Linked DNA regions of Homo sapiens: all the other regions are linked to region 3. Evidence: fine-mapped expression QTL. A gene starts in region 3. Each other region holds a variant in brackets. All regions are shown on one strand. Distances are from middle to middle.

Region 1 (10,218 bases), 110 kb after region 3:
GGTTTCGCCATGTTGACCAGGCTGGTCTCAAGCTCCTGGCCTCAAGTGATCTGCCAGCCTTGGCCTCCCAAAGTGCTGGGATTACAGATGAGAGCCACCGTGCCCGGCCCATTGTTACTTCTGAAATCGAAATCAAATGCCATATTGATTCCTGATCTTTTGTGTATGACCTCTCTCTCTCTTTTTTTTTTTTTTTTGCTACCTCTCCCCGAAAGTTTTTAGGATCTTTTTTTCCACGATTATGTACCTTGATGTGGGTCTTTTCTCGCCCTTTGTGCTATTAGGTCTAGCAACTCATGTGTCTCAGGTCTGGGAAATGATTTTACAGTTTTTCCAGCTGGTGCGTAACTAGCTGTTTGTTCTGATACTGTCAGTATTTAACTTTATGTTAGAAACATTTCATAATGCAAATGAAAAATTTAAGCCAGGTGCAGTGGCTCATGCACTTTGTGAGGCTGAGGTGGGAGGAACACTTGAGGTCAGGAGTTCAAAACCAGCCTGGCCAACATGGTGAAACCCCTTCTACTAAAAAAACAAAAAAACAAAAATTAACTGGGCATGGTTGTGCACCCCCATAATCCCAGTTACTCAGGAGGCTGAGGTACGAGAATCACTGGAACTGGGAGACAGGTTTCAGTGAGCCGAGACTGAGACAGAGCAAGACCCTGTCTCAAAATATAAATAAAATACATAAAAAATTTAATATTATGTATATAATATCCAGCCCAGGCTTTTCTATTTGTCATGCCCTGTTTCTTTCACATCATAGCCTTACTCAGATGCCTGCTGATCCTTGATTGAGGTGTGATGCTTGAGAGTCAGGCTCTTAAATACTACTGGCGAATTCAGTGCATTGTGGTTTTGTGACTTCACTTGTCTCTTACAGAAGTGGGGAAGTGGTTTTTACTTCGATGCATGGTTCTGAAGTAGAGATGTCTATCTCCTGATGCACACTTTAAATAATCCCCATGTTTTCCACTCCATACTCCATCCTTGTCTGGTTTAAGCTCTTAGCCTGTCTGCAGTTCAGGGGATGAATCTGCTTGGTTCTTTTCAGCATCTCCCTCTGCAACGCTTAGATCTCATCTTCCTTTGCTTTGCTAACTATTCTCTTTGCTTCTCCATTTGTTTCTCTGTCATTGATGACTTCCAAGTTATATCCCCATCCTGGATATTCCTTTTGAACGTCAGACTCATATATTCAGTTACCTCCTCAGTATCTCTATTCGGATATCTAATGGCATCTCAAAATTAACATGTGCAAAACCAACCTGTTCCACCCTTGTGTTGGCTGTATAAATTAGTGGGAACTCCATTTTTTAAGTTGCTTAAATCAGAAACCTGGGAGTCATCAATTTTGGAGTCTGTCCCTTTGCTCTTGTGGCACATGTAATCACGAATAAATCCTGTTGGCTCTATCTTCAGAATATATCTCATTTTATCACTCTCTCTGCCACCAGAGTGGTTTAAGCCACCTTCATCTCTTAGGTTATTTTAGTAGCTTCCTAACTGGTCTCCTTCCTTCCATTCTTGCCACCTTCCTCAACACCGAAGATATATTTTATTTATTTATTTATTTATTTTGAGACAGAGTCTTGCTCTGTCACCCCAGCTGGAATGCGGTGGCTTGATCTTGGCTCACTGCAACCTCTGTCTTCCAGGCTTAAGCAATTCTCCTGCCTCAGCCTCCCGAGTAGCTGGGGCTGCAGGCATGCACCACCATGCCTGGCTAATTTTTGTATTTTTTAGTAGAGATGGAGTTTCACCATGTTGGCCAGGCTGGTCTCGAACTCCTGACCTCAGGTCATCTGCCCGCCTCAGCCTCCCAAAGTGTTGGGATTACAGGCGTCAGCCACCATGCTTGGCCAAATTTTTTATTCCTTTGGGTAAAGAGATGTATTTTATTTCCTTTAATTTGGTAATATAGTGAGTTATGTTAATAGATTCTTTTTTTCCAGTGCTCAAGCATCCTTGCATTCCTAGGATAAATGGTACTTCAACATGATTTTCCTTTTAAATATACATTGCTGGATTTAGGTTATAAATTATTGAGAATTTTTGCATCTGTATTTACAAGTGTTACATTCTAATTTCAGGCCTTTTCCAGTTTTATTATCAAAACAAGCTGTGCTGTTTTTCCTCTCTTGATTCTCAGTAGTAGTCTCTTTAAGATAGTGATTATTCATTCTTTTTGGTAGATCATGCCTATAAGACCTGGGCATGTATGTTTTTATTGTGGGAATATATTGTTTTTACTTTCCTTGTTATGAAATATATAATTTATTTTAAAATATGTATATACAGAGTTTGTGTTCCTTTAAAGAATAATAGCTAAAAATAAATTGCACGCCCCCACATCCAACCATCGTCAAACAAAACATCTTTTACACTCTATTTTATTTATTTATTTTCCCCCACCCCTCTAGAGTATACACCCTTTTGGAGCCTCTGAGCATTTTCCTTTCCCTCACTGCTTTAGAAACCTCTATTCAGATTTTTCATATTAATGATTCTTTTGCTTTTAACCCACATGTGTTACTGAAGTTTAAGTCCTAAATAATAATTTTTCCTGCTTTAAAATATATTTTTATGTCAATGAAATCATACTGGTGGATGTATTTTCTCTGATTTGCTGCTTTTGCCTCTCATTTCTGAGCTTGATCTATGTTGGTGCATTTATAGAAATACTTCATATTTTCTGCTGTGTATCATCTTATGCTATCAACGTGCCATATGATTTACCTGTTCTTAGCATGTATTTGGGTTGTTTCTGGTTCTTGCTGTAACAAACAGCTGCATTTAGTGCTTGTGTATGTGTCTCCTGATGCATGTGTGCATTCACTTCTCTGGGGTGTATATGTTGCTGGGAATGGGACTGAGTATTGTGAGTGTATAATAGTATCTTGTTTTTGTTTTTTTTCCCTCTCAGTTTATGGCATAATTTACGTACAGTAAAATTTACCACCGCCCCCCTGCCCCGCCTTTTTCTTTTTCTGAAACAGAGTCTCGCTCTGTTGTCCAGGCTGGAGTGCAGTGGCACAATCTCGGCTCACTGCAACCTTTACTTACTGGGTTCAAGCGATTCTCCTGCCTCAGCCTCACAAGTAGTTGGGATTACAGGTGCCTGCCAGGCTAATTTTGTAGAGACAGGGTTTCACCATGTTGGCCAGGCTGGTCTCAAACTCCTTACCTCAGGTGATCCACCCACCTTGGCCTCCCCAAGTGTTGGGATTAGAGGTATGAGCCACCACGCCCAGCCAAATTCACCCTTTTTAGTGTACAAGTATACAGCTTTGTGAGAGTTTGATTTCTTTAGTTCAAATTTGTTTTAAAGTTATATTTGGTATTTTAACAGTGCTATTTAAATATATGCCATATATGGCTTGAATGCAATTATCCTAGTACAGATGGTCCTTGACTTATGATGTTTTTGTGTCCCTGTAAGCCCACCTTAAGTTGAAAATATTAAGTTGAAAATGCATTTAATATGACTAACCTGCTGTAAATCCTAACTTAGCCTACCTTAAATGCACTTAGAACACTTAAATTAGTTTACAGTGGGCAAATCATCAAACACAAAGCCTATTTGTAATAAAGTGTTGAATATCTTATATAATTTATTGAATACTAAAGTGAAAAACAATAGTTGTATGAGTAGTCAGAGTATGGCTTCTCTTCAATGCATATCACTTTCATATACCATCGTAAACTCAAAAAATCATAAGTCAGGGTATGCTGTATATTTTATTGGTGCTAACATACTTCCATTTTAAAATACAGGAAATTCACCTTTTTTTGTGTATAGTCTTGTAAGTTTTGACAGATCTATATACAGATATGTAATCCCCACCCATGATTCTTTTTTAATTTAAAAAAATATATTTTTGAGACAGTCTCACTGTCACCCAGGCTGGAATGCAGTGGCATGATCGTAGCTCACTGCAGCCTCAAACTCCTGGCCTTAAGTGCTCCTCCTGCCTCAGCCTCCCAAAGTGCTAGGATTACAGGAATGAGCCAGTGTGCCCTGCCACCACCATAATTAAGATCCAGAACAGTTTCATCATCCCAGAAACTTTCCCTGTATCCTTTTGTAGTCAGCTTCTTTTTTCACCCCCAGCTCCTGGTGACCACTGATTTGTTCTCTGTCCTTGCAGTACTGTCTTTTCCAGAATGCCATATAAATTGAATCCTACATTATATAACACTTTGAGTCTGGCGTCTTTTACTTAGTGTGAAGTATTTGAGATTTATTTGTCTTGTGATGTGTATTAGCAATTTATTTCTTTTTTCTTTTTTTTCTTTTTGGAGACAAGGTCTTGCTCTGTCACCCAGGCTGAAGTGCAGCGGCACGATCATAGTTCACTGCAGGCTTAAACTCAAGCAATCCTCCCACTTCAGCCTCCTGAGTAGCTGGGACTGCAGGCGCACACCACCATGTTCAGCTAATTTTTTTTTTTTCTTGGTAGAGACAGGATCTCACTCTGTTGCCCAGGCTGATTTCAAACTCCTGGCCTCAAGGAATCCTCCCACCTATGCCTCTCAAAGTGCTGGGATTACAGGTGTGAACCATTACAGTTGGCTAGCAGTTTATTTCTGTATATTGCAGGATAGTATCTCATTGTATAGATGTACCACATTTTGCGTATTCATTCTTCAGTTGATAGACATTTGGACTACTTCCTCCTTTTGGCTGCTGTGAGTAATGCTGCTGTGAATAAATATTTGTGTGTAAGTTTCTATGTGGACATACAGTTTCATTATTCTTGGGTAGATAAACCTTGGAGTAATTGCTGGGTTGGGTGGTAATTTCTGTTTAACTTTTAAAGAAATAGCTAAGCTGTTTTCCAAAGTGGCTTCACCATCTTAAATTCAAGTTTTTGTTTTCGTTGTATTTGAGGCAGAGCTTTACTCTCTTGCCCAGGCTGGAGTGCAATGGCAAGATTATATTATAGCTCACTGCAGCCTCGATCTTCCAGGCTCAAGCGATCCTCTCACCTCAGCCTCCCAGGTAGCTGAGAGTACAGGTGTGTGTCACCATGCCTGGCTAAGTTTTGATTTTTAGTAGAGATAAGGTCTGGCTATGTTTCCCAGGCTGGTCTTGAACTTCTGAGCTCAAGCAGTCCTCCTGCCTTGGCCTCCCAAAGTGCTGGGATTGCAGGTGTGAGCCACCAAGCCCAGCCAAGGTTTTTGTGTTTTAGTAAAATTTCTGCTCTTCCTGGCAATACTTTTTTCTGAAATTTACTTTGATATTGATA[T/C]AGTCACTCCAGTTCTTTTCAGTGCTTAGTTTTTGCATGGTATATTTTTTCCATCCTTTTGTGTTATACTGTCTGTTTCATTATATTTGTAGTTGGACCTTGATTTTTTTTTTTTCCCTAATTCTTTTACTTGGGATGCTTGGACCTAATGTGTGTCTAGTTTTTCCTAATGTGTCTTTTACTTGGGATGCTTGGACCATGTGTATTTAATTATTGATATGGTTGGGTTAAGTCCACCATCTAGCTATTTGTTATTTATTTATTTTTAGAGCCAAGGTCTTGCTGTGCCACCCAGGCTGGGGTGCTAGTGGCATGATCATGGCTCACTGAAGCCTCTAACTTCTGGGCTCAAGCAGTCATCTCACTGCAGTCTCCCGAGAAGCTGGGATTACAGGCGTGTGCCACCAAGCCTAGCTGATTTTTTTTTTTTTTTTCCGAGATGGAGATTTGCTCTTGTTGCCCACTCTGGAGTGCAGTGGCGCAATCTTGGCTCACCGCAGCCTCTGCCTCCTGGGTTCAAGCAATTCTCCTGCCTCAGTCTCCCGAGTAGCTGAGATTACAGGTGCCTGCCACCATGCCCAGCTAATTCTGTATTTTTAGTAGAGATGGGGTTTCACTATGTTGGCCAGGCTGATCTTGAACTCTTGACCTCGTGATCTGCCCGCCTCGGCCTCCCAAAGTGTTGGAAGGCCGAGGCGGGCAGATCACGCCTGTGCTGGGAGGCTGAGGCGGGTAGCCACTGCTCCCAGCCCTGAAATCTTTCCTCTTTTCTAAGATAGACATTTAATGCACACACACATTTTGATATGCTATGTTTTAATTTTCATTCAGCTTAAAATATCTAATTTTTCTTTTGATTTATTCTTTAACTTACTGATTATTTAGAAGTGTGATATTATATTTTGGGAATAAAAATCCAGAGATCTTACTGTTACTGATTTTTGATTTAATTCCATTGTGGTAAGAGAACATACCTTATATGATTTGAATCCTTTTAAATTGATTGAGACTTGTTTTATGGATCAGAATAAGGTGTCTTGATAAAGGTTCCACGGGCACTTGAAAAGAATGTGTATTCTACTGTTGTTAGGTAGAGCATTCTATTAATGTTGATTGGCTTGTTGATTGATAATGTTCAAGTCTTCTGTATTCTTACCGATTTCCTATTCTATCAGTTATAGACAGAGGGTGTTAAAATCTCAATTCTGTTTTGCTTGTTGATTGATAATGTTTAAGTCTTCTGTATTCTTACCGATTTTCTGTTCTATCAATTATAGAGAGAGGTGTTAAAATCTCAATTCTGTTTGTTTTTGGTTTGAAATTTACTTATAAGGTACATAAGCATTTATGATTGTCGTCATCTTGATGAATTGGTCTCTGTCATTTTGAAATGACAGAACTTACTTTGTCTCATAATATAGCTACTCGTGCTTTTCATTTGATTAGTGTTTGGCATATATTTTTATATTTTAAAAAAACTTATCACCTGTGTCTTTATGTTTAAAGTGGTTTTTTTTCCCAGGCATCATGTGTTTGGGATCTTGCTTTTATCCAGTTTGATAGTGTTTGCCTTTTAATTGGAGTTTGTAGACTATTTATGTTTAATGTGATTACTGATTTTTTTTTGAGATGGAGTCTCGCCCTGTCGCCCAGGCTGCAGTGCAGTGGCACGATCTCAGCTCACTCCAACCTCCGTTTCCCGGGTTCAAGTCATTCTCTTGCCTCAGCCTCCCAAGTAGCTGGGACTGCAGGCACCTGACACCACACCCGGCTAATTTTTGTATTTTTAGTAGAGATGGGGTTTCACCATATTGGCCAGGCTGGTCTCAAACTGCTGACTTTGTGATCCGCCCACCTCAGCCTCCCAAAGTGCTGGGATTACAGGTGTGAGCCACTGCGGCTGGATGTTTACTGATTTTTATAGAGTTTAAACAACCATCTTTTCTATTTGTCTGATGTGGTGTTTTTTTCGTTTTTGTTTTTTTAAGATGGACTGTCACTCTGTCGTCTAGGCTGGAGTGCAGTGGTGCAATCTCAACTCACTGTAACCTTTGCCTCCTGGGTTCAAGCAGTTTTCCTGTCTCAGCCTCCCAAGTAGCTGGGATTACAGGTGCGTGCCACCACACCTGGCTATTTTTTTTTTTTTTTTTTTGGTTTGAGACAGAGTCTCGCACTGTCACCTGGGCTGGAGTGCAGTGGCGCGATCTCGGCTCACTGCAATCTCCGCCTCCTGGGTTCAAGCGATACTCCTGCCTCAGCCTCCCAAGTAGCTGGTATTACAGGCGCCCATCACCACACCCAGCTAATGTTTTGTATTTTTAGTAGAGACAGGGTTTCACTATATTGGCCAGGCTGGTCTCAAATTCCTGACCTTGTGATCTGCCCGCCTTGGCCTCCCAAAGTGCTGGGATTACAGGCGTGAGCCACCGTGCCTGGCCTAATTTTTGTATTTTTAGTAGAGATGGGCTTTTGCCATGTTGGCCAAGCAGGTCTCGAATTCCTGACCTCAAGTGATCCCTGCCCTTGGCCTCCCAAAGTGCTGGCATTACAGGAGTGAGCTACGCCATGCCTGGCCTGGATTGAGGATTTTTTAGTGGTTCATTTTTAAGTCCTTTCTTGGCTCATTAGTACTTTGTTATTTTAGTGGCTGCTTTAGTGTTTATTGAGTTCAGCTTGTGAAACTCAGTCTTTAATATTATACCACTTCACCTATATTACAAGAACCTTATAGCAGTACACTTCATTTTCCCTTCAGACTTTGTGCTATGTTTGTCATACACTTCACTTTTACATATGTTGTAAACTCCACAATACATTATTATTTTTCATTTAAGTAGTCAATTTTTTTAAAACAATTTTTTTTTTTTTGAGACGGAGTCTCACTCGGTTGCCCAGGCTACAGTGCAGTGGTGCAATCTTGGCTTACTGCAGCCTCTGCCTCCTGGGTTCAAGTGATTCTTATGCCTCAGCCTCCTGAGTAGCTGGGATTACAGGTGCGCCCCATCATGCCTGGCTGATTTTTGTATTATTAGTAGAGATGGGGTTTTGCCACGTTGGCCCAGCAGGTCTCGAACTCCTGAGCTCCAGTGATCCGCCTGTCTTGGCCTCCCAAAGTGCTGGGATTACAGGCATGAGCCACCATGCCTGGCCTAAAAAGATTTTAAAAGTAAGAAAAAATGTCTTTTACTTTATATGTTTTCCATTTCTGGTGTTCTTTATTGCCTATGAGCGGTTCCAGATTCTCATCTGCCAGATTTTCTTCAGTTTTTTCTCGTCAGTTCAGATTTTCTTTCTGCCAGAGGACTTCCTTTAATGTGTTTCTTGTAGTGTAGGTCTGCTGGTGATATCTTTAAGCTTTGGTGTGTTTGAAAAAGTACTTCCTCTTGTTTTTAGAAAGATATATTCCTTTGATACAGAATTCTAGGTTGACAGGTTTTTTTCATTGTGTACTTTAAAGATGTTGCTCCACTGTCTCTAGCTTGCATTATTTCTCCTGTAAAATCTGTTGTTATTTTAATCTTTGTTCTTCAGCGAGCAAATTTATCTTTTTTGCCTTTTTTGGTTAATTTTTAAGATTTTCTTTTTATCACTGCTTTTTCAGCAATGTGTTTATTATATACTTTGTTGTAGTTTGCGTCATATTTCTTGTGTTTGAATTCTCTTGAGCTTCATGGATGAAATTTACGTATTCAGCTACTATTTCTTGAAATATTTTTCTTTTGTACTTCCCCACCGCATCTGGAGTCTGTAATTACATGTATATTTGGCTGCTTGAAGTAGTCATACAACTCACTGATGCACTGTTATGTTTTTTAGTCATTTGATTCTCTTTGTTTTGGGTAGTTTCTACTGATCTTCATTTCACTAGTCTTTATCTTTCCCATGTTAAATCTGTTACTCTTATCCAGAATTATACCTTTTATCCTTAAAAATTCAGTTTTTTTCTTTTTTTTGAGACGGAGTCTCATTCTGTCACCCAGGCTGAAGTGCAGTGGCATGATCTTGGCTCGCTGCAACCTCCGCTTCCCAGGTTCAAGCGATTATCCTGCCTCAGCCTCCCAAGTAGCTGTGATTACAGGCATGCATCACCATGTCTGGCTAGTTTTTGTATTTTTAGTAGAGACAGAGCTTCACCATGTTTGCCAGGCTGGTCTCAAACCCCTGACTTCAGGTGATCCACCTGCCTCAGCCTCCTAGAGTGCTGGGATTACAGGAATGAGCGACCACACCTGGTTTGTTTCTTAAAAAACATCTTATATTTCTCTGCTTAACGTGCTCAATGTTGAACATGTGAAATATAATAACTTTTCATAATCTCTTCTGATTCTGTCTCTATATCATCTTTGGGTCTGTTTTTATGTATTCTATTTTTCTTGTCATTATGGGTCAGATTTCCCAGTTCTTTGCAATCCTAATAAATTCTGTTTAGATGAAAGACATTGTGAATTTCACTTTGGGTTGTGGATATTTTTGTATTCATGTTGGTATTTTTGAGATTTGTTCTGGAGTGCAGATGAGTTAGCTGGAAACTAATTCTTTTGAGGCTTGCTTTTTAGCTTTGTTAGGTGGGGCGTATCCTTTCTGTGTTTATTTTTGTAAGGGTATACAGATATACATGTTTTCTTATTTCCCTCTTTATTTATTCTTATTTAATCTGTAACAATCTTTTTCCTTATATTCGTAACATTCTTAGTTAGGGAGTAATTACCTCTTCCCTAACTGTTGCATTAGCTTCTTAATTGGCACTCTGGTTCCCAGACTTTTTCTGTCTCTAATGCAGTGTACAGACTACTGTCAGAATAATTCTAAAGCACAATTCTGATATTGTCACTGTATTGCTTTTCAGTGCCTACAGCAGTAGGATTCACTTAAAAAATTATTCCCCTAATAGTAATATAAAAAATTTTTTTGAGCTCAAACTCTCATTCTCTCTCAGTATACATATTTGTTTATACATGAGGTC
Region 2 (10,218 bases), 220 kb after region 3:
CTTTGGGAGGCTGAGGTGGGAGGATCACTTGAAGTCTGGAGTTCGAGATAAGCCTGGGCAACATAGCAAGACCCTGTCTCTGCAAAAAGAATTTAGCTGTGCATGATGGCATGCACCCGTAGTCCCAGCTACTGTGGAGGCTGAGGTGGGAGGATTGCTTGAGCCTGGGAGATCAAGGCTGCAGTGAGCTGTGATTGTGCCACTGCATTCTAGCCTGGGCCACAGAGCATGACCCTGTCTCGAAAGACAGAAAGAAGAAAGAACACATAGCAGACTGGTAGGCTGGTCATAGCAGCACTATTCACAACAGCTCCCAACTGTCCACCAATGAAGGATGGATACATTGTGGGCCCCCCATACCATGAAATATTACTCAGCCATAAAAAGAAACAAACTACTGACGCATGCCATAACACAGATGATGCTCACACACTTATGCTTGTGAGCAAACGAGCACATGCTGTACAATTCCATTTCTATAAAGTTCTAGAACAGGCAAAATCAATGTATGCTCCTAGAAGTCAGGTCAGTGGTCACCCTGGCCCAGGGGCAGTGACTAGAGGGAGCACAAAGGGTCTTTAGGGTGGTGCTGATGTTTTGTTTCTTGATCTGGACATGGGTCACAGGAGGTGGGGTCAGTTTGTGAACTTGGCTGAGCTGTGAAACTGAGTGATGCGTGCTCTTTTCTGAATGTGCATTATGCTTCAGTAGAAGTTTCAAAAGGGGAAACAGCAAGCCAGGTCAGCTTCCATGGCTAAGCAGCCTGGAGCTCGCTGTAGTCGATTACTGCAACCCACTGGACACCAGGCACCTGTGCTGGGCAGTGTGTATGTGTTATCTTATTTAATCCACCAAATAACAAGGTTGATATTCATTTGCCATTGTGCACATGAAGACTAGGGGCTTCTGGGAGAAGATTAAGTGACTCACCCAGTCACCCAAGAGTGGAGAAACTGGCACTCAGAGAGCAGGTGACACGTCCACAATCATGGAGCTAGAAGCTGCTGGCTGTGCTGGACCAAGATGTGTGGGTCTCCAGGGTGTGTGGTGGGCCCTGCTAAGGTGAGACCACTGAGCCAGGCCACGTGGTGCTGCGCTTCACCGACCTCCAGCAGAGCAGGAGGAATCCACCAGTGCGAGTCAGATGCAGCCAGAGATTTCCCTTGGGCCAAGACCTGGGAATGGGCTAGGACTGCTGTGAGGCCCTGCCTTGGGATGGACCCCAGGGCTTCTCCATACAAGCCTTGGAAGGAGGCTGGCCTTGGAAGCCTGAAGGGATGAAACTCTAGCTGGCTCTCCGGCAGGTGAGGAGAGGTAAGGACCCTCCACAGGCTGTGGGGGTGTGAGACTAACTTACGTTCACTCGGTCCAAGGAAGCCATGCAGGGAAACGGGCAGGTTACCAAGAGAAAGAGGCAGGCAGCACCTTCTGCCTAGGCCTGCAGTCCCTTCATGACAGAGCCCACAGCTCCGGTGTGGATGATGGCCCAAGGCTCTGGGGCCCGGGATGCTGCATGGGGACCTTTCTGGGGCTGAATCTAGTGTGTGGGGTCATGTCCAGGTGTGGAGGGGAGTGGGCAGCTGCGGACACGCTCTGTTTGCACTCAGGCCCTTGCTCGGTGTGACCTCAGGCAGGTGACTTGACTCTCCAAGCCTTGGTTTCCTCATCTCTAAAATGAGGAAACAACAGCAGGGACTTGTTTTTGAAGGTTGCAGTGAGGCCTAAATGCAGCGATAGCTGAAGAGGCCTGGACTGGTGCTGGGCACAGAGCACCGCCCGAACCATAGTTATGGATAGTGATGGTACTACGAAAACTAAGTAATAACTCAGTCATCAGTCCACACGCATTTATTGAGCCCCTACTATGCTCCAAGGCCCGGTCCAGGTGCAGGGACTGCAGTGGTGAGATAAGCACACCTGGGTCTGTCCATGTGGAGCCGATGGTGCTGGTGCTGCTGCGGCCTCAGCTTGTCCCTACCCTGACTGTTGCTTTCTTTTTCCTTTCTCTTTCCCCACCCCTTCCCTTGAGAAATAACAGCATTAAGATTGGAGAGACTAGGGCTCTCTTTCTTACTAATTCTGTGACTTCAGACAAATTACTGGCTAGGCGCAGTGGCTCATGCCTATAATCCCAGCACTTTGGGAGGCCAAGGCAGGTGGATCACCTGAGGTCAGGAGTTCAAGACCAGTCTGACCAACATGGTGAAACCTGGTCTCTACTAAAAATACAAAAATTAGCTGGGTGTGGTGGCACATGCCTGTAATCCTAGCTACTTGGGAGGCTGAGACAGGAGAATCATTTGAACCCAGGAGGTGGAGCTTGCAGTGAGCTGAGATCATGCCACTGCACTCCAGCCTGGGCCACAGAGTGAGATAATCTCGGGAAAAAAAAAAAAAAAAAAAAAAAAAAAAACACACAACACACACACACACACAAACAAATTACTTAAGCTCTCTAAAGCCGAGCCTCAGTTTCCCTGTGTGCTGAGGAACTGAGTTCTGTGTCTGGGGGTACCCAGCACACAGAAGGCCCCCAACAATTGCTGTTCCTGCTCCCCTGCCTACCTCCCTCTCCTCTCTTCTTCCTCCCCACTTTCCCCGTTTCCTTTCTTTTCCATTCTTTTTCTCTGCCCAAGCCTTCGGCATCTTAACACCCAAAGTGATTGTCAAAGTTTAGTTGATGGTGCCCAGGCTGTGGCAGAGACTGTGAACCAGTTTTCTTGATATTATGCCCTGAATCAACATTCTCCCTTATCTTTTTCAACCACAGAGGGTAGAAACATGAAATTCTTTCTTTCCCAGCCTCCCTTACAACTGGGAACCACGTGACCCTTTTGCAGCAATGAGACATCAACACAATGCCTCGAATGTGGACAAGGTTGGAGCAATAGCAGGCAACTTGCAACCATGAGGAAAAGCCTCAATAACATCACAGAGACACCAACCCAACATTGCAAATGGCACCAGCGGCGGCTCCTCCATTCTTCTTGTTTTAGGAGTAAAATAACTTCATGTTTTGCTATAGTCAACTGGGTTTGGGGGCCTGTAGTCAAAAGCATTCCTGGCTTATTCACATGGCTCCTGTCCGCGGGTGGACTAGATGGCAAGGATCCCCCACTCCCATGTGGCCTTTTCTCTTTCAAGAGGACACAGGAGCCTCTTGACTCTTTGAAGAGGACACAGGGGTGCTACGCTACGTCCAGGCACCTGCTGTGCGTACTGTGGTGCCTGGGGAGCAGACAAGCATTTAGTTCCCTCACTTGTGGACTCTGAAGGAGGGAAAACTGTCACGGCTGCAGCACAAGTGTGCCTGGGCACTTCCTCAGCCACAGGAGTATCCCAGTTAAAGAACATCTTCTGTTTCTATCTTATCTCTTGAGGTATTTAGAGCCATTCTAAATGCCAGAGCCTTAGAATGACCATGGGGCTGGCAGGGCATGGGCTCTGTGACTCATATCTGTCGAGGAGGCTGCTTGTGGTTGTGCTGGATCGAGCCCCTCTCCTTGACTATCTTCGGCACCGCAAGCCAAAGCTCAGGGCTGCCCGGGCCTATTCCTGAGGTGGTGCAGGAGAGGCAGATGGGCTGCTGGGGACGAAAGGGGTAGGTAGGCGGGCTCTGGGCTCCGTGCCCAGCATTGCCAGCAACATGCCTGTCTGCTGCTGACCCCTGACCCACTCAACTTCCTCCCCAGAAGACAGTCCCTTGAAGAAAGGGGTTCCTCCATCAAAATGTAAAATTTGAAAGCCACAGATGTCTGACCCAAACCTGCTGATCTAGTAACAGGGAAGCTGCAGCATGAAGAAGTTAGATGGCTGGGGCGCAGTGGCTCACGTCCCAGCACTTTGGGGAGGCTGAGGTGGGGGAATGCTTAAGCCCAGGAGTTCAAGACCAGCCTGGGCAACATGGCGAGACCCCATCCCTACAAAAAATACAAACATTAGCTGGGCGCGGTGTTGAGCACCTGTGGTCCCAGCTACTCAGGAGGCTGAGGTGGGAGAATTGCTTGAGCTCAGGAGGTCAAGGCTGCAGTGAGCTGTGATCATATCACTGCACCCCAATAAAAGAAGTTAGATGACTCGTGGGGCAGAGGCACACCTAGAACCAGAGTCGCTGGACTCCCTCTCAGGTGCTCATCTCCACTTTCGACCTGAGACAGGCCCAGGTCCCTGCCCTGCTTCCCTCTGGCAGAGAAAGATCACCACTAGGCTTCACATCACAACACATGTGCACCCGGCTGGCAGGCCCTGGGAGAGCTGCCTTTGAAGACGGCTCCCAGGCATAGCTCCCCCTTACTCCTCTATCTGAGCCCCACTGCTGTTCCTACCCCAGGGTCTTTGCATGTGCTGTCTCCTGTGCCTGGAAAGCCCTCCCACTTCATCTCTGCAGGGCTGGCCACTTCTCACCATTCAGGCCTTGGCTCGGATGCTGCCTCTTCAGAGAGGCCTTCTTGCCCTGAGGCACAGTCTGTCATCTTACTCTATTTTAATTATCTACCCCAAATTTCCTCCTTTTGCATATTTTTTTATATTGCCTTGTTTATCATCTCCAGGCCTGTGAGCTCCTAGGGATGGGTACCTTATCTGTCTCATTCACTGTGGTATCTTCCGTGCTTGGAATGACCTCCAGCATGTAGTAGGAACCTCGGAAATGATTTTTGAGTGAAGGAAGGAAGAAATTTCTTTCTTTCTTTTTTTTTTTTGAGAGAGTTTCACTCTTGTTGCCCAAGCTGGAGTACAGTGGCATGATCTCAGCTCACTGCAACCTCTGCCTCCCAGGTTCAAGTGATTCTTCTGCCTCAGCCTCCCGAGTAGCTGGAACTACAGGTGCCTGCCACCACAGCTGGCTAATTTTTTGTATTTTTAGTAGAGACAGGGTTTCATCATGTTGGCCGGGCTGGTCTCGAACTGACCTCAGGTGATCCACCCGCCTCAGCCTCCCAAAAAGTGCTGGGATTACAGGCATGAACCACCACACCTGGCCTAGGAAATTTCTTTAAAACTACATAATGCTGTGTTGCAGGGAGGACAAGGGTCTGGTCGGCCGTGAGCAGCAGCTGTGCTGTGTGCCTCTCAGTCTGAATAGGGGTCGGGGAGCTACCCGCCTGCCGGGATCCACACCCAGTCACCCCGAGCAAAACAAAGCAGACAGCACAAATTCACAAAGCAATACTGTGCCCTCCTACCCTCAAAAAAAAAAAAAAAAAAAAAGCCCGATAATGAGGTAAACACAATCATGACCAGGAAAAAGCTTGGCCATGCTTCTTCCAGTCCACCCAAAGCCATTATCTCTAATTGATCTCCAGACATCAGCTGCTGAAGCGTCTGAAACCCTCCTGCACCCTCCAGGTCTGGTTACAAAGCCCTGGCCCACCCACCCGCCCCATGGAGTCAGGTCTCCTGGAGCTGCTCTTTGCTGGGGGTGACAGGGCCTATCTGGGCCCCACATGAAAAGGACCCATCAGGCTGACAAGAGTCAGGGTGGGTCAAGAACCTGTGTAAAAGTCACAACCACTAAATGCTCAGCTGCCAGGGGGCTGAGCTGCCTGAGTTTCAGTGCCTTAAGTAGAAGGCTTGACAAAGCCATCAGGGGTCCCGCATTCAAAATAAAAAGCAAGGAAAACCAGGGACGGCTGCAGAAAAGCACCCTGCCCAAAATATCCCACTAGTTCTGGGTGAAAGAGGCACCCAAAAGCTGGAGTGAGGAGTTTAGTTGCAAAACGGAACGGGACTTAGCCACAAGATCACGAATCCCTTCTGGGTCTTGGTTAGGCTGTGGCGGTCACAAGGGCAGCCATCAGTACAGGGACCATCTGGATGTT[T/G]TGAGCTGCTCCTTCCTGGCCCAGCCCAGGAAAGACGTCTCCTTTCCTGTTAGGTCTCTCTTGTCCTTAGAAACAGACCGGAGTCAGCTCCCTGGGCTGCCTGGCAGGGGTGTTTTACTGCCAGAGCTCTGACAGGACAGAGCCACTTCCCCCCTTCATTCATGGACGCCCAGGTAGCAGCTCCTGACCTGTGCAAGCTTTTCCCTTGACACACACAAAGCGTCCCGAGGCCAGCCCTGCATGCAGTATTGCTGCTTATGGCACCAGGCAGCTCTCCTGCTTGCACCAGTAAATTACGAGTGCTTCCTGCATTTTTTCCCCCAGATAATAAAGTTGAAAGGCCACCTTGGCATTCTCGCATTTGTAGGGGTGGAGGTCTGCAGCCCGGAAGGGGCTCGAGCCTCAAGGAGCTGCTGGGGACAATGAGCTGTTCAGGTTCGGGGTATCTGCCAACCCCACCAGACACTGGCTCTCCAGACAGGGTGGTGGCTGTTTTCCACTTTCCCACACAGCTTCAGGGAAGTGAGAGGAAAGAAAAGACACAGACCTCTCCCAGCTCAGGTTGCCCTCACAAAACAGAGGAAATGCTCATTTTCTGTGAGAATTTGGAAATTGTAGTAAGTTTCTAGAAAGCACCCCAGGATGTTCAAGAACATATACTGATTGCAAAAATAATGTCCCATAACAAAAGATGTTTGACAATGAGCTTTTCACGCCTCTCTCTGTTCTCTTAAAAAAAAAAAAAGCTTTCTGATAAATCATTCCCTCTCAAGTTTAGAAATGCCCTATTTTCACAGGGCATGGTGGCTCATGCCTGTCATTCCAGCACTTTAGGAGGCCAAAGTGGGAGGATCGCTTGAGCCCAGGAGTTCAAGACCAGCCTGGGCAACACGTGAAGCCCCATCTCTATAAAAAGTGCAAAAAATTAGCCAGGTGTGGTGGTGTGTGCCTGTAGTTCCAGCTACTCGGGAGGCTGAGGTGGGAGGATCACTAGAGCCTGGGAAGTCGAGGCTGCATTGAGCTGTGATTGCACCACTGCACTCTACCCTGGGCAACGGGAGTGAGACCCTGTCTCAATAAAAAAAAAAAAAAAAAAAAAGAAATGCACTATTTTCTTTGGGAGGCCCAGAAGTTCAAGATCAGCCTGGGCAACAAAGTGAAGCACTGTTTCTACTTAAAAAATTTTTGTGTTTGTTTGTTTTTGAGGCAGAGTCTTGGTCTTGCTCTGTTGCCTAGGCTGGAGTGCAGTGGTGCAATCTCAGCTCACTGCAACCTCTGCTTCCCAGGTTCAAGTGATTCTCCTGCCTCAACCTCCTGAGTACCTGGGATTACAGGCTCCTGCCACCACGCCAGCTAATTTTTGTATTTTTAGTAGAGACGGGGCTTCACCATGTTGGTCAGGCTGGTCTCAAACTCCTGGCCTTGTGATCTGCCCACCTTGGCCTCCCAAAGTGCTGGGATTACAGGCGTGAGCCACTGCTCCTGGCCAAAAAAAATTTTTTTTTAAATAAATGCCCTATTTTGCATGATACCATTTTAGGAGGATGGGGAATGCTGTGCTGTCCATGTTTAGAGCCCCCCGATCCTGACACTGGGCTCATGGTGCTCCTGGTTCTCAGTCCACCTCTGTTTGTCAGTGAACAAAGAGGCCTGGGATAAAGTGTCTTCACATAATGCTCATGTGGTCAGATCAGTGGTGCTGCTGCAGTATTTTTCCTCCACCAAAAAGCGGATACAAACATTTTTAGGCATTAAAGAAACAATTTTTGGCTGGGTGTGGTGGCTCATGCCTGTAATCCCAGCACTTTGGGAGGCTGAGGCAGGCAGATCACTTGAGGCCAGGAGTTTCAGACCAGCTTGGCCAACATGGTGAAACCCCATCTCTACTAAAAATGCAAAAATTAGCCGGGCATGGTGGCAGGCATCTGTAGTCCCAGCTACTCAGTCAGCTGAGGCAGGAGAATTGCTTGAACCTGGGCAGCGGAGGTTGTAGTGAGCCAAGATTTTGCGACTGCACTCTAGCCTGGGCAACAGAGGGAGACCTTGTCTCAAAAAAAAAAAAAAAAAAAAAAGGAACAATTATTTTTTTCAAAGTAATGCCTTTTTTCAAGCCAGCAAAACTTTTAAAAAGAAAGCCAACAAAAGAGGAACAATTCCTACTAGATATTAAAACATATGATAAAGTTTTCACACTTAAAACAGTTTGGTAGCTGCTACATGAATAGTCAAGGAGCCCAGTGGACCAAACAGAAGTAGATTCTGTTTTGGATGGAAACTTAGTAAGTTTTAAAGGTGTCATCTCAAATCAGTGGGGGAAAATGGAGTATTTAACAAATGATGCTGAGACAAAAGGGTTAAGCGGAATCTGTATCTCAGAATACGTCAGCATAAGCTCCAAATGGATCAAAGATTAAATATAAAAAATGAAAATAAAAACATGTATGCTTTTTGCTCTGTCAGCTGGAAGAGCCTGCAAGAAAGGATACTTCAGTACCAATGGGCACACATAGTGCCCAGATCTTGTTTTTTTGTTTTGTTTTATACAAAATATATAGAGATGAGGTTTGCCCAGGCTGGTCTTGAACTCCTGAACTCAAGAGACCCTTCTGCCTTGGCCTCCCAAAGTGTTGGGATAATGGGTGTAAGCCACCATGCCCAGCCAGATTTTTTTTTTTTTTTTTTTGAGACGGAGTCTTGCTTTCTTGCCCAGGCTGGAGTGCAGTGGCACAATCTCGGCTCATTGCAAGCTCCGCCTCCCGGGTTCATGCCATTCTTCTGCCTCAGCCTCCCAAGTAGCTGGGAGTACAGGCGCCTGCCACCACGCCCAGCTAATTTTTTTGTATTTCTTTCTTTTTTTTTTTTTTTTTTACTAGAGACATGGTTTCATCGTGTTAGCCAGGATGGTCTCGATCCGATATTTTGGTTTTTAATATGGTTTTCCAATAAAAGGAATCAGAGCTCCTTGGAGAAATCACTGATTCCAGGATTGGGGCAGGAAATATGCAAGATGAGCCTGGAGTCTTACAGTGCCAGAAAGCAAAGAAGCACTAAAAAACAAGAAACGAACAAACAAAAACCCCAAACACCAATGAGGTATGGCAAAAGAGCACAGGAAACAACTGAAAAAGCTCCAATGGCCAAAGCTAGAACAATTTGTACAACAAAATGAAGAAGTATTGAATGATCATCAAAGCATAAAATAAACAGCTATGAGTCTCGACTTCTATAAATGGCTGAATAAATTAATAAGTGGGGGAGGAGAAACAAATCTCCTATGCATAAGCAATCTAAATAATTTACGTTGATAATTCACCCTAAAAAAGGCAGAACATGACTCCCCACTCTTCAGGTGTGGGCTGCACACGGTGCCTTCCTTCCCAAGTGCACAGTGTGGAAAGAGGGAAAAGTCACTTGACAGGAGAGAAACCTGACAACCAATATCTCAACCAGGTGTGATCAAGGCCAATGGCAACAGTCCTAAATCATGTTGATATTATGGACCCTTAACAGGATGTGATGAAAATGACACTCCATGTCTGTGGTCTTCCTCCTAATAACCCATAACCCCGGTTTTATATAGAGAAAAATGTCAAATTTCTAAATCCTACAAAATACACAACTAGTACTCTTCGAAACTGTCAAGGTTATCAAAAACAAGGAAAGTCTGAGAAACTGTCAAAGCCCAAAGAAGACTAAAGGGACATGACAATTAAATGGAATTAAATGTTACAATGAAAATTAAATGTTGTATCCTGGATGAAATCTTGGAACAGAAAAGGAAATTAGGTAAAAGCTAAAGGAATCTAAATAAACTGTAGACTTTACTTACAATAATGTATCAGTGTGGTTCATTAGTGGTAACAAATGTATCACCTTAATATAAGACATTGATAATACGGGAAACTGTGTGTCGAGGAGTGGGCAATGTGGATACTCTGTACTATCTTCCCAATTTTTCTGTAAAGTTAAAACTGTTCTCAAAAATAGTCTATCAAAAAAAAAATGAAAACATAAAAATACTAAAAGAAAACATGGGGGATGGAGTGGAGTTAGCCTTTTTAAGACTCAAATGCAGAAGCGATTTGAAGAAAAAATTGATACATCTGAGTACATAAAAATAAAAATGACAACACACACAGCATAGGCAATATCAAAAGAGAGAGAGCTACGGATGGGGAAAAGGAGGCAATGACTAACTCTGGGGAATCCGAAGAAAGGAAATGTAAGGAAATGTAATCATAGCATATGTTAATTGGGTCAGCTATGAGTAATATGCACACAGTCATAATAATATAAACAATGAATAGCAATTTATCTAAATAGAGAGGTATAGATATGTTGCAGGATGGAGGAAGGAGAAATAATAAGTGTATTTATGAGAGGGTGTAAGAGTGCAAAT
Region 3 (10,218 bases):
AGGAAGGAGGATCTCTGCTCTGGTCCATGTGATCTCTCCAGGACCCTTTTTTTCCAGCCCCACTGGCCTCCTTCCTCTTTTTGCATCCTCACCATCTCTCCCCTTCATTGAACTGAGCAAATCTCCAGAATTGAGAGGTTTGGAAGCCCTACTCTGACTTTTCAAAACTTCTTTCATTCCCTGAGTCTCCTCCCCAAGATTCTGGGGCTCAGAAAGTCCTTTCTCTATTTTTCTACTGAAATAACTCTTTTCTGAGCAATAAATACCTCACAGTCCAGGTTAGATGGAAAAGAGGACACAGTATGGAAAGGAAATGCCAGGAGTGGAAACATACTTGGTAATATAGAAGTTACCCCATCATACTAGGGTGACCACTCATCCTAGTTTGCCTGGACTAAGGAGTTTCTTGGGACATGGAACTTTTGGTGCTAAAACAGGGACAGACCTGTGCAAACTAGAACAAGTTAGTCACCCTACAACTGTACAGCTACTACTACTAATCCCACTTCAATACACAGCTTTATTCAGCTTGCTAAGGACAGAATCAAGACCAGACCGTCATCAACAATGCCTTACCAAAGTTCTTTTTTCGGCCAGGTGCAGTGAGTGGGTCATGCCTGCAATCCCAGCACTTTGGGAGGCTGAGGCAGGTGGATCACTTGAGGTCAGGAATTCGAGACCAGCCTGGTCAACATGGCGAAACCCTGCCTCTACTGAAAAATACAAAAATGAGCCAGGCATGGTGGCACATGTCTGTAATCCCAGCTACTCAGGAGGCTGAGGCATGAGAATCACTTAAACCCGGGAGGTAGAGGTTGCAGTGAGCTGAGATTGCGCCACAGCACTCCAGCCTGGGCAACAGAGCAATATTCTGTCTCAAAAAAAAAAAAAGTTGTTTTAATTTTCATTTCTTTAATATGAGTAAGCATAAGTATCTTTCCTTTTCCTATGTTTAAAAGCAATATTTTCTATTCCTTTTCTCTGAACTATCTGTTCATACCTTTTACCTACCTGTTTAAAAAAATTTTTAAATAGTTTTTGTACATATTTATGGGGTACATGTGCAATTTTGTTACATGCATAGAATGTGTAATGATAAAGTCAGGGTATTTAGGTTATCTATCACCCAAGTATTTATCATTTCTATGTGTTGGGTACATTTCAGGTCTTCTAGCTGTTTTGAAGAACACAATACATTTTTGTTAAATAGCAGTAAACACATCCAGTTAAACATAGTGGATTGATGATGCGTATTTATTTTTTTCTCCCTCGAACCCCATCTATATGGCAATAAGGAATAAAAAATGTATTAACCCAGAACATGAATAGGAATGAAAAGGAGACATTAGTGGCCCAGGGATTTCAGCAAGTTTTTAGAAAACAGGGACAGAAGGGGAAGTAGTAACTGACTTAACAGGGGGAGGAAGTTATGACCCAAATGTCTGCAGGGAATATTGATTTGATGACTAAAAGGTGAGCCCAGATTCTTCCATAGAAGAGATAGACACTAAAAATAAAGATATGGATGGAAATCTCCCACAGAGTAGAACAAAAGAGCCAAAAAGAGGGACAATAAGAGAAAAACAGAGAAAATTAGAAACTCAGTTTGGAAAGTATAACTTCTGACTAAGAGAAATTCCAGAAAGAGAAAAAAATGGAGGGGAGAGCCAAGTCTGGTGTCTCATTCCTGTAGTCCCAACAGTTTGGGAGGCCGAGGCAGGGGGATTGCTTGAGCCCAGGAGTTTGAGACCAGCTGGGCAACACAGTGAGACCCCATTTCTACAAAAAATAGAAAAATTACTCAGGCATGGTGGTATGCACCTGTAGTCCTAGCTACTCGGGAGGCTGAGGTGGCAGGATCACTTGAAGCTGCAGTGAGCCATGATCATGCCACTGCATTCCAGCCTGTGCAACATAGCACAACACTGTTTCAGGGGAAAAAAAAATAGGAGGGGAGAAAATTATCGAAAAAATAATACAAGAAAATTTCCTAGATTAGAGGGATATAAGTCTCCAGATTGAAAAGGCCCAGCTAACACAAGTGAGGAAAAGCCTCACTGAGGGGAGTCATCATCAAATACAACATTATGGATAAAGATGATAGCCTAAAAGTTTTCAAAGATTAAAAATAAAAAAAGAACAAGACACATATAAAGCAACAGGATTAAGAATGGCATTAGATGTCTTAAATCTGGATACTAGAAACAATAATGCAATGTTTTAAAAATTCTGAGAGAAATAATTTTCAGCCTAGATTTCTTTTTTTTTTTTTTTTTTGAAATGGAGGCTCCCTCTGTCGCTCAGGCTGGAGTGCAGTGGTGCAATCTTGGCTTACTGCAACCTCTGCCTCCTGGGTTCAAGTGATTATCCTGCCTCAGCCTCCCCGAGTAGCTGGGACTACAGGCATGTGCCACCATGCCCAGCTAATGTTTTTTTTGTATTTTTAGTAGAGACAAGGTTTCAGCATGTTGGCCAGGCTGGTCTCAAACACTTGACCTCAGGTGATCTGCCTGCCTCGACCTCCCAAAGTGCTGGGATTACAGGCATAAGACATGGCGCCTGGCCTTCAGCCTAGATTTCTATACCCTGCTAAACTATTAATCAAGTGTGAAAACAGTATAAATGCATATTTAGACATACAAGGACTAAATATATTTGCTTCTTTGCAACCTTTCTCAGGAATCTACAGAAAGATGTGCTGCACAGAGATGACAGAGTAAATCCACAATCTAGAAGTTTGAGACACAAGGTCCAGGGCACAGGGAATCCCAACCAGGTGTAGGATATAGGAAAGTTCAGTATGACAGCTGTGCAGTAGGCCTGGAGAGCACTGGTCCAGATCAGAGCTGAAGCCTTCAGGAGAAAAAAACAAAAGAGAACTCATGAACTTTTTTTTTTTTTTTAAGTTGTTGTTGTTTTTGTGAGATGGAGTTTTGCTCTTGTCACCCAAGCTAGAGTGCAATAGGGTTATTTCGGGTCACTGCAACCTCCACCTCCTAGGTTCAAGCAATTCTCCTGCCTCAGCCTCCAAAGTAGTGGGGATTACAGGTGCCTGCCACCACTCCTGGCTGATTTTTGTATTTTTAGTAGAGACGTGGTTTCTCCATGTTGGCCAGGCTGGTCTTGAACTCCTGACCTCAGGGTGATCTGCCTGCCTCAGCCTCCCAAGGTGCTGGGATTATGGGCATGAGCCACCATGCCTAGCCGAATTGTTATGTTACACATCTGGAAAAATCACTGCTGATTATTTTGTCTAATTTATTAACCACATAGGAAAAAATTAACAATATCTGCAAAGAAAGCTAATGAAAGGGGGGAAAAAATGAGGCAATTATTAGCTTCAGGAAATACCAAAAGAGGCTGGGTGCAGTCTCTTTTGGTATTTCCTTTATTATTTTATTTAAAAATAAACTTCTTCACTGTAGAGAAAGTGTAAATCAAATTATGTGGGAGTTTTAATGGGCCAGGCCTGAGAATAGCACACATCACATTTAATTGGCCAGAACTTGGTCTGAACTGTAAGGAAGGCTGGGAAATACTGTCTAGTTGTGTGTCCAGGAGCAGGAAGAAATAACGTTTTTGAGAGGAAGTAGCAATATCTGCCACAACAGGCAAAAAGTAGTTGTAGGCAGATGAAGAAGACCATCTCAGGTATTCATTTATTCAAGGAGCAAAACATATTTGTTCAGCAACTACTATTGACTAAGCTTGGTTCCAGGCATGGTGGATACAAGAGTGAACAAATAAAAGACTGCTCTTATGCAGTTTCTATTTAGTGGGGAACAGCAGGTGTAAGTTCCATGGGGGTTGGAACCTGCCCTTCTAGGCCAGTGTGGTTGGAATAGAGTTTTAACGAATTTTGCAGGAAGTAATAAGGACTTCATATTTGATTCTAAGAGCAATGAGACTCCATTAAATCGAGTATTAATCAGAAAGTGGCATGATCTGTTTTATTTATTTATTTATTTATTTATTTATTTTAATCTTTATATCTGAGACGGAGTTTCGCTGTTGTCGCCCAGGCTGGAGTGCAGTGGTGCCATCTCTCTCACTGCAACCCCTGCCTCCCGGGTTCAAGCGATTCTCCTGCCTCAGCCTCCCGAGTAGCTGGGACTACAGGCATGCGCCACCACGCCCGGCTAATTTTTTGTATTTTTATTAGAGACGGGGTTTCGCCATGTTGGCCAAGCTGGTCTCGAACTCCTGACCTCAGGTGATTCACCTGCCTCAGCCTCCCAAAGTGCTGGGATTACAGCGGGAGCCACCGCACCTGGCCGCATGATCTGTTTTAAATAATTACTCTGGCCACCTTATGGAAAATGGATTGTTCGGACAGAGCTGGACAAAAGAATGGAAACAGACCAGATATTTCAGGCAGGCTAGAGATGAGCGTGGCCTGGCCTTGCCTGGGGCGGTTGTGACTGACTGGATTGGGTGAAGGACAGGAAAGCTACAACAAGGGTGCCTATAGGTGTTCGTATTGAGTCACTGGGGGCACCCTAAATGGGAGTTACCTCAGTAGCAGTTTGAGACACCAGTCAGATAATGGATGTGAAAGCTTTTAGAAAGGTTGAACGGCGGCTGAAATCGCGTGTGTTCCATTTACAGATGGGAAACTGAGGCACGAGATACCAGAGGATGGAGTCAGGCCACGTTGTGCGCCACTCTCCCCGCTTAGGTGGGTGAGGAGACCGAGGTGTGTTGGGCCCCCGCTAAACACCAGCACCGACCTGAGCCCCGCCCAGACCCCTCCAGCCGGCTTTCCCTGTCCTCTGCTCGTGTGCCAATAAAGTTATTGAAATTGACACCGGTTGCTAAGGAAGTGGGTCGCCGAGCCAGGTTGCTAAGGAAGTGAGCGGCCACTGTCTCTCCCCATCCGGGGCAGCGGGGAATGGCTGAGCCAGGGGTTCGCCGCCCCCGCCGCCGCCGCCGCCGCCGCCGCCGCCGCCGCCGCCCGCTTTCGGCTCGGGCCTCAGGTGAGTCGGAGGGGCCGGGCGCCCACCGAGCAGGGCTAATCCTGTGGCCGCCTGGGGTTTTCCCTGCGACCTGCGCCCGCGCCTCTGCCTGGCTTTGCTGTCCCGCGAGCCGGAGCATCCTCTGCCCTGCCTCCTAGGCATCCTTTGGTAGTCCGGACGGCCTTGCCCCTCCTTCCCCTGGCAGGGTCGCGGCCCGACCCCCAGACACGGCCACCTTGGGTCGCAGCCCACCTGGGGGCCCTGAGGCGGTGGTCAGGGCCCCAGTTTGGGAGGAGGGCGGGGAAGCGAGAGCCTGGGGTCCGAACCTCGGCGCTGTGCTGGGCTTGCTGTGTGACCTTGGGCAAGTCTTTTCACCTCCCTGGCCTTAGCTGACCTGTTTATTCAATGGGGTCCTAACATTGCTGCTCAGAGTGGTAAAGATAATGAGAAGTGTATGTGAAAGTGCCCTAAATGGGGAGAGGGAGAATTCTTAGGGCACCCTAGATGGGAGACCAAGAGGGCAGTTTGAAGTCTGAGCGAGTTAGAGACGTGGCATTTCCACTTAGTAACTGTGTGGCCCTGGGCAAGTTAATTTCTCTGAGTCTTCTTTTCCTTATCTGTGAAATGAGGTAATAGACTACTGTGGAAATCAGTGAGACTGGGTATGTCAAGTAGCTTGGCACATAGTAAGTGCTCAACCAGCTATTATGAGGCGTCCAGGGTAGGAGGGCAAGACTTCCAGGAGGAGATGACTTTGGGACAGGTAAGGTGTAGGTGTGTAGAGTGCCAGCTCATATGGGTAGTCCTACTGCAATGCCAACCCCCAACCCCGGTTTTACTTCTCCATTCTGCTCAGAGCAAGGGAGGTACTTCTACAAGTAGTCCTGGGAAACTCTTTGAGGTCAACCCCTTGTAGATAGCTGGGGTCATGGTCTCATTTTCTACCTGGGCTTCGTTGACCCTTCCAGAAGAAAAAAGGCATCTTTGTGTCCTTTGGGAAGTGCTTAAAGCAGTAATAACTATTTACAAGCATATGATTAAGAAGCACTTTACCAGGCATATTATTTCATTTAATCTTTATGTAGACTTTGCCAGGTGCCTGGTGATGTCATCCTCATTTTGCCGATGAGGAAACTGAGGTTCAGAAAAGTAAAGGGAAGGACCTGCTTAAGAATCCTTTTTTTTTTTTTTTTTTTTGAGACAGAGTCTTAGTCTGTTGCCCAGGCTGGAGTGCAGTGGCGCGATCTCAGCTCACTGCAACCTCCGCCTCGTGTGTTCAAGCGATTCTCCTGCCTCAGCCTCCCGAGTAGCTGGGACTACAGATGTTCACCACCTCGTCCACTAATTTTTGTAGTTTTAGTAGAGACAAGGTTTCACCATGTTGGCCTGGCTGGTCTCGAACTCCTGGCCTCAAGTGATATACCTGCCTCGGCCTCCCAAAGTGCTAGGATTACATGCGTGAGCCACCACACCCAGTCATTGCCTAAGAATCTTGTATCTATTAAGTGATGGAAGTGGACGTGTTTCTAGGTAAATCCTGTATTTTATCCCCCATTCACTGTTGCCTCTGATTTTGCAACAGTTGCTATTATAAGGCCACAGGGGTATTCTTTTGTTACTTTTAACTGGCTAGAAGTTAAAAGGCAAGGAAACAAGATCTCAGGTAAAGCTTTATTTAAATAGATACCACCCAAAGTGAGGATCTCAGAAAATAGTTGGAATCTTTTTTTTTTTTTTTGAGACGGAGTTTTGCTGTTGTTGCCCAGGCTGGAGTGCAATGGTGCCATCTCAGCTCACTGCAACCTCCGCCTCCCTGGTTCAAGCAGTTCTCCTGCCTCAGCCTCCCAAGTAGCTGGGATTACAGGCATGTGCCACCATGCCCGGCTAATTTTGTATTTTTAGTAGAGATGGGGTTTCTCCATGTTGGTCAGGCTGGTCTCAAACTCCCGACCTCAGGTGATCGCCTGCCTTGGCCTCCCAAAGGACTGGGATTACAGGCATGAGCCACTGTGCCCAGCCTGAGAGCTGGAATCTTTAAAAGAGGGCTTCTCTGTCCCTCATTCCCTCCTCATTAAAATGAGGGGACTAGGCTAGATTATACTGAAGGCCCTTTCAGTGCTGTTATGCAGTTGTGGTTAAAAGCTTGCAATCAGACTACCTGGACTAAAATCTTGGCTCTGCCACTTCCAAGCTGTGTGCTACTGAGCAAAGAGGTGCTACTTTACCTCTGAAATGATGCTCAGTACCTCTGAAATGATGAGAGGACTTTTTGGTAAGGGGCTCTGTGAGGAAGAATTATTCATAGTTCATTTTGAACCCCTTGGTGGTATAGTTTCCTCATCTGTAAAATGGGGATAGTAATAGGCCTTATTACCTGTGGCCTTATTATCATGTATGGCTGTTCTGAGGATTTATTTGAACTTAATATATGTGAAGTGCCCAGCATATTTGGTAAACATTAGCTATCGTTATTTGGGTTTAACGTGGTGCTTGTGCTGTATTTTCCGTGTATGGTTGGTGAAAGAATAAATTAAAGTATGTGATAATACCAGGTCCGTCAACCATAATGTCATTGCAAGCATGAAACAGTAGCCATCATGGCATTATATAAATGTTGATATTTTTATACAGTTGGCCCCAGGAACCTGTAATCATGTGCCACAATGGGTTGCAAAGAAAGGTAAAGCTGTCCAGGCATGGTGGCTCACGGCTGTAATCCCAGCACTTTGGGAGGCCAAGACGGGTGGATCACGAGGTCAGGAGATCGAGACCATCCTGGCTAGCACAGTGAAACCCCATCTCTACTAAAAGAAAAAAAAAATTAGCTGGGCATGGTGGCGGGCGCCTGTAGTCCCAGCTACTCGGGAGGCTGAGGCAGGAGAATGGCGTGAACCGGGGAGGTGGAACTTGCAGTGAGCCAAGATTGCGCCACTGCACTCCAGCCTGGGCGACAGAGCAAGACTCCGTCTCAAAAAAAAAAAAAAAAAAAAAAAAAAGAAAGAAAGATGAAAGCTGATGGTAGGACGTTAGGTTTAGTAGCTCAACATCCAATTCAGTAAATATTTGCTAAATCCCCTTATGCTAGGCACATGGAGGATGTGGAGGTCAATCCCATCTCCATATCCTTCGAGGAACTCAGAGCTTAATTTGCAAATTACTGCATTTGACATCTTTAAATGAATTCATATCTTATGTTTGCCTTGGCTGCAGAGTGAAGCCACTGATTCTAATCTGTTTTGTTGTGTCCCTAGACTTCTGTTAGGTGCCTGGATTAGAAACCTCAGATTGCTTCCTAAGCCTTTTCATCCATTAATTCGCAAGTCCCTGAGAAAGACCCCGTCTTATGTAACAGAGAGTAGCAATACTTGACAATAACAATAAGGTGCCTAATGGCTTACAAAAATGCCTACACTTGCTTACACATGCTTTTACTCATTTAATCTTATCTGTGTCCCTTCAAGGAAGGTAAGGTGCAGATTAGGATCTCTGTTTTATAGTCGAGGAATCTGAATGGAAGCCAAGAAGCCATGATGCTATTGAGTGGCCCATTTCACGTTGAAATCCAGTCTTCTGTCTTCAAATTCAGTGTACTTACCACTATCCTGCCCGGATTGTATTTATTCAGTATTTCCTGAGCACCTAGAATGTGTCAGTTCTGTTTTAGCCTGGAGATATCATGGTAGAAAGGTACAGAGTCCCTTGCTCTCATGCAGCTTATATTCTACTGGCAGCAAACAGAAAAATACAGCAGTAAATGAACAAGGGAATTTGGATGAGGAATAAGTGCTGGGGTGAAATCCCATCTCTATTAAAAATACAAAACTTAGCTGGGTGTGGTGGCACGTGCCTGTAGTCCCAGCTATTCAGGAGGCTGAGGCACAAGAATTGCTTGAACCTGGGAAGCAGAGGCTGCAGTAAGCCGAGGTTGCGCCATTGCACTCCAGCCTGGGCAACAGAGCGAGACTCCATCTCAAAAAGAAAAAAAACCCAACAAACAAAAAGAAAAAGAAAAGGCCTTGCTAGGATGGTGACGTTTTTGCTGAGATTTGCTCCCAGGGACGGGCCAGCCATTTGAAGACATGTCAGAAGGAAGAGCAAGGGTAAAGGCTGTGAGGTGGCAACAAGCTTGGTAAGTTCCAGAAACTGCAAGAAGGCTTACAATGGCAGGGACAGGTGAGTCAAAGGCAGAGTGGGGAGGTGGGTGGATGTAGGGGATGGAAGTGGTAGGGAGCGCTCAGATCATACAGGACCTTGTCTGCTAGAGTAATGAGTTGGGATTTTGTTCTAAAAGCTGTGGAAATCATTGGAGGTTCTGGAGAAGGGACGTGGCATGATCTATTTTTGTTTTTTAAAAAAATCACTCTGGCCTCTTTGTGGCAGTGAATTTTAGAGGGCATAGGAGTGGCAGCCAGGAGGCTAGTTAAGAGGTTAGGTGAGAGAAGATAGTGGCTTTCTAGGTTGGTGGCAGTGGAGATGGTAAGAGGACGGATTGGGGATGTGTTTCGGAGGTAGAACCAGCAGGATGGCGGGATGAGGGTGAGAGAATAAGGATGACTCCTGGGTTTTTGGCCTGAGCAATTAAGTAGATGTTAGAGATGCCATCTGCCTCTGAAATGATGAAAGGACTTTTTGGTAAGGGGCCCTATGAGGAAGAATTATTCATAGTTTATTTTGAACCCTGTAGAGGAGAGGCACAAGGTATAAGCATCATACTTTATAGTCTGTGGGGAGGAAATCCCAGATTATGCTGGCAGAAGCTAGCCAGGTGCAACTGATTGAAGCTTGACGTTCTTACTGTGAACCAAAAAAAAAAGTCCTGCTTTTCTACAGTCTGGCTTTTTGCCAGCCTGTGGAGCGGCAGGTGTGGGCTTTGCCAGGGCAGTACCCATCTGTCTTTCTGTCTTGTGCTGTTGGCATTGCAGTGCTGACTCGGGATCTTGGCTGAGGGAGCCTGGCCAGCTCTGGAAGAGGGAGCGGAATCACTAGTGAAGTTCACTTGGTGTGCCAAATGGCCACATTCTCCCTGCCAAAGTGGTTCTTTCCTGGTCACCAAATGACAGTTCTGAAGTTTCAGAGCTTTTGACTTCAGAATCCCTGGAAAACCTATTGTACTCTACCAGAATTCCTAGAGGATTCTTGAATCTCTTCTGAGCAAGGGAATTCGAGCTTCATTGTTATGTATTCCAGTAACTGTACTTGTAAATCTGGGCATTACAGGGTTGTACATTCAACATTGTGAATAGTAAAACTAATAGTCTTATCA

Direction of the effects. Positions count from the first base shown, and alleles are read on the strand shown. Sizes are in standard deviations (SD) of each study's normalised expression. Not every link is listed here.
For the expression in putamen of the gene that starts at base 4,862 in region 3, allele T in region 2 goes with a higher level than allele G (large effect, 1.0 SD a copy in GTEx).

Evidence for each region. PIP is the estimated chance that this variant, and not a neighbour inherited with it, causes the effect.
Region 1: its variant is the best candidate, but not a certain one, in a credible set for the expression of KIF3B in whole blood (INTERVAL, PIP 0.55).
Region 2: its variant is the best candidate, but not a certain one, in a credible set for the expression of KIF3B in putamen (GTEx, PIP 0.68).

What each region holds. Positions count from the first base shown.
Region 1 is chr20:32,386,609-32,396,826 of GRCh38, forward strand. The region is part of intron 4 of ASXL1 (ASXL transcriptional regulator 1); the gene reads left to right. Among named protein-coding and RNA genes, the nearest start is that of ASXL1, 33 kb to the left of the region's middle. The variant T/C (reference allele first, on the strand shown) is at 5,256.
Region 2 is chr20:32,491,870-32,502,087 of GRCh38, forward strand. All of the region lies in intron 4 of NOL4L (nucleolar protein 4 like), which reads right to left. Among named protein-coding and RNA genes, the nearest start is that of NOL4L-AS1, 64 kb to the right of the region's middle. RefSeq lists an enhancer at 5,076-5,592. The variant T/G (reference allele first, on the strand shown) is at 5,820.
Region 3 is chr20:32,272,790-32,283,007 of GRCh38, forward strand. It overlaps KIF3B (kinesin family member 3B), which reads left to right and starts at 4,862. Exons shown (of 9, transcript NM_004798.4): 1 at 4,862-4,976. LOC124904885 (a long non-coding RNA gene) reads right to left here and starts at 4,754. Exons shown (of 2, transcript XR_007067561.1): 1 at 4,515-4,754; 2 at 2,630-2,853. RefSeq lists enhancers at 4,618-4,667, 4,714-5,224 and silencers at 4,878-5,037, 5,058-5,237.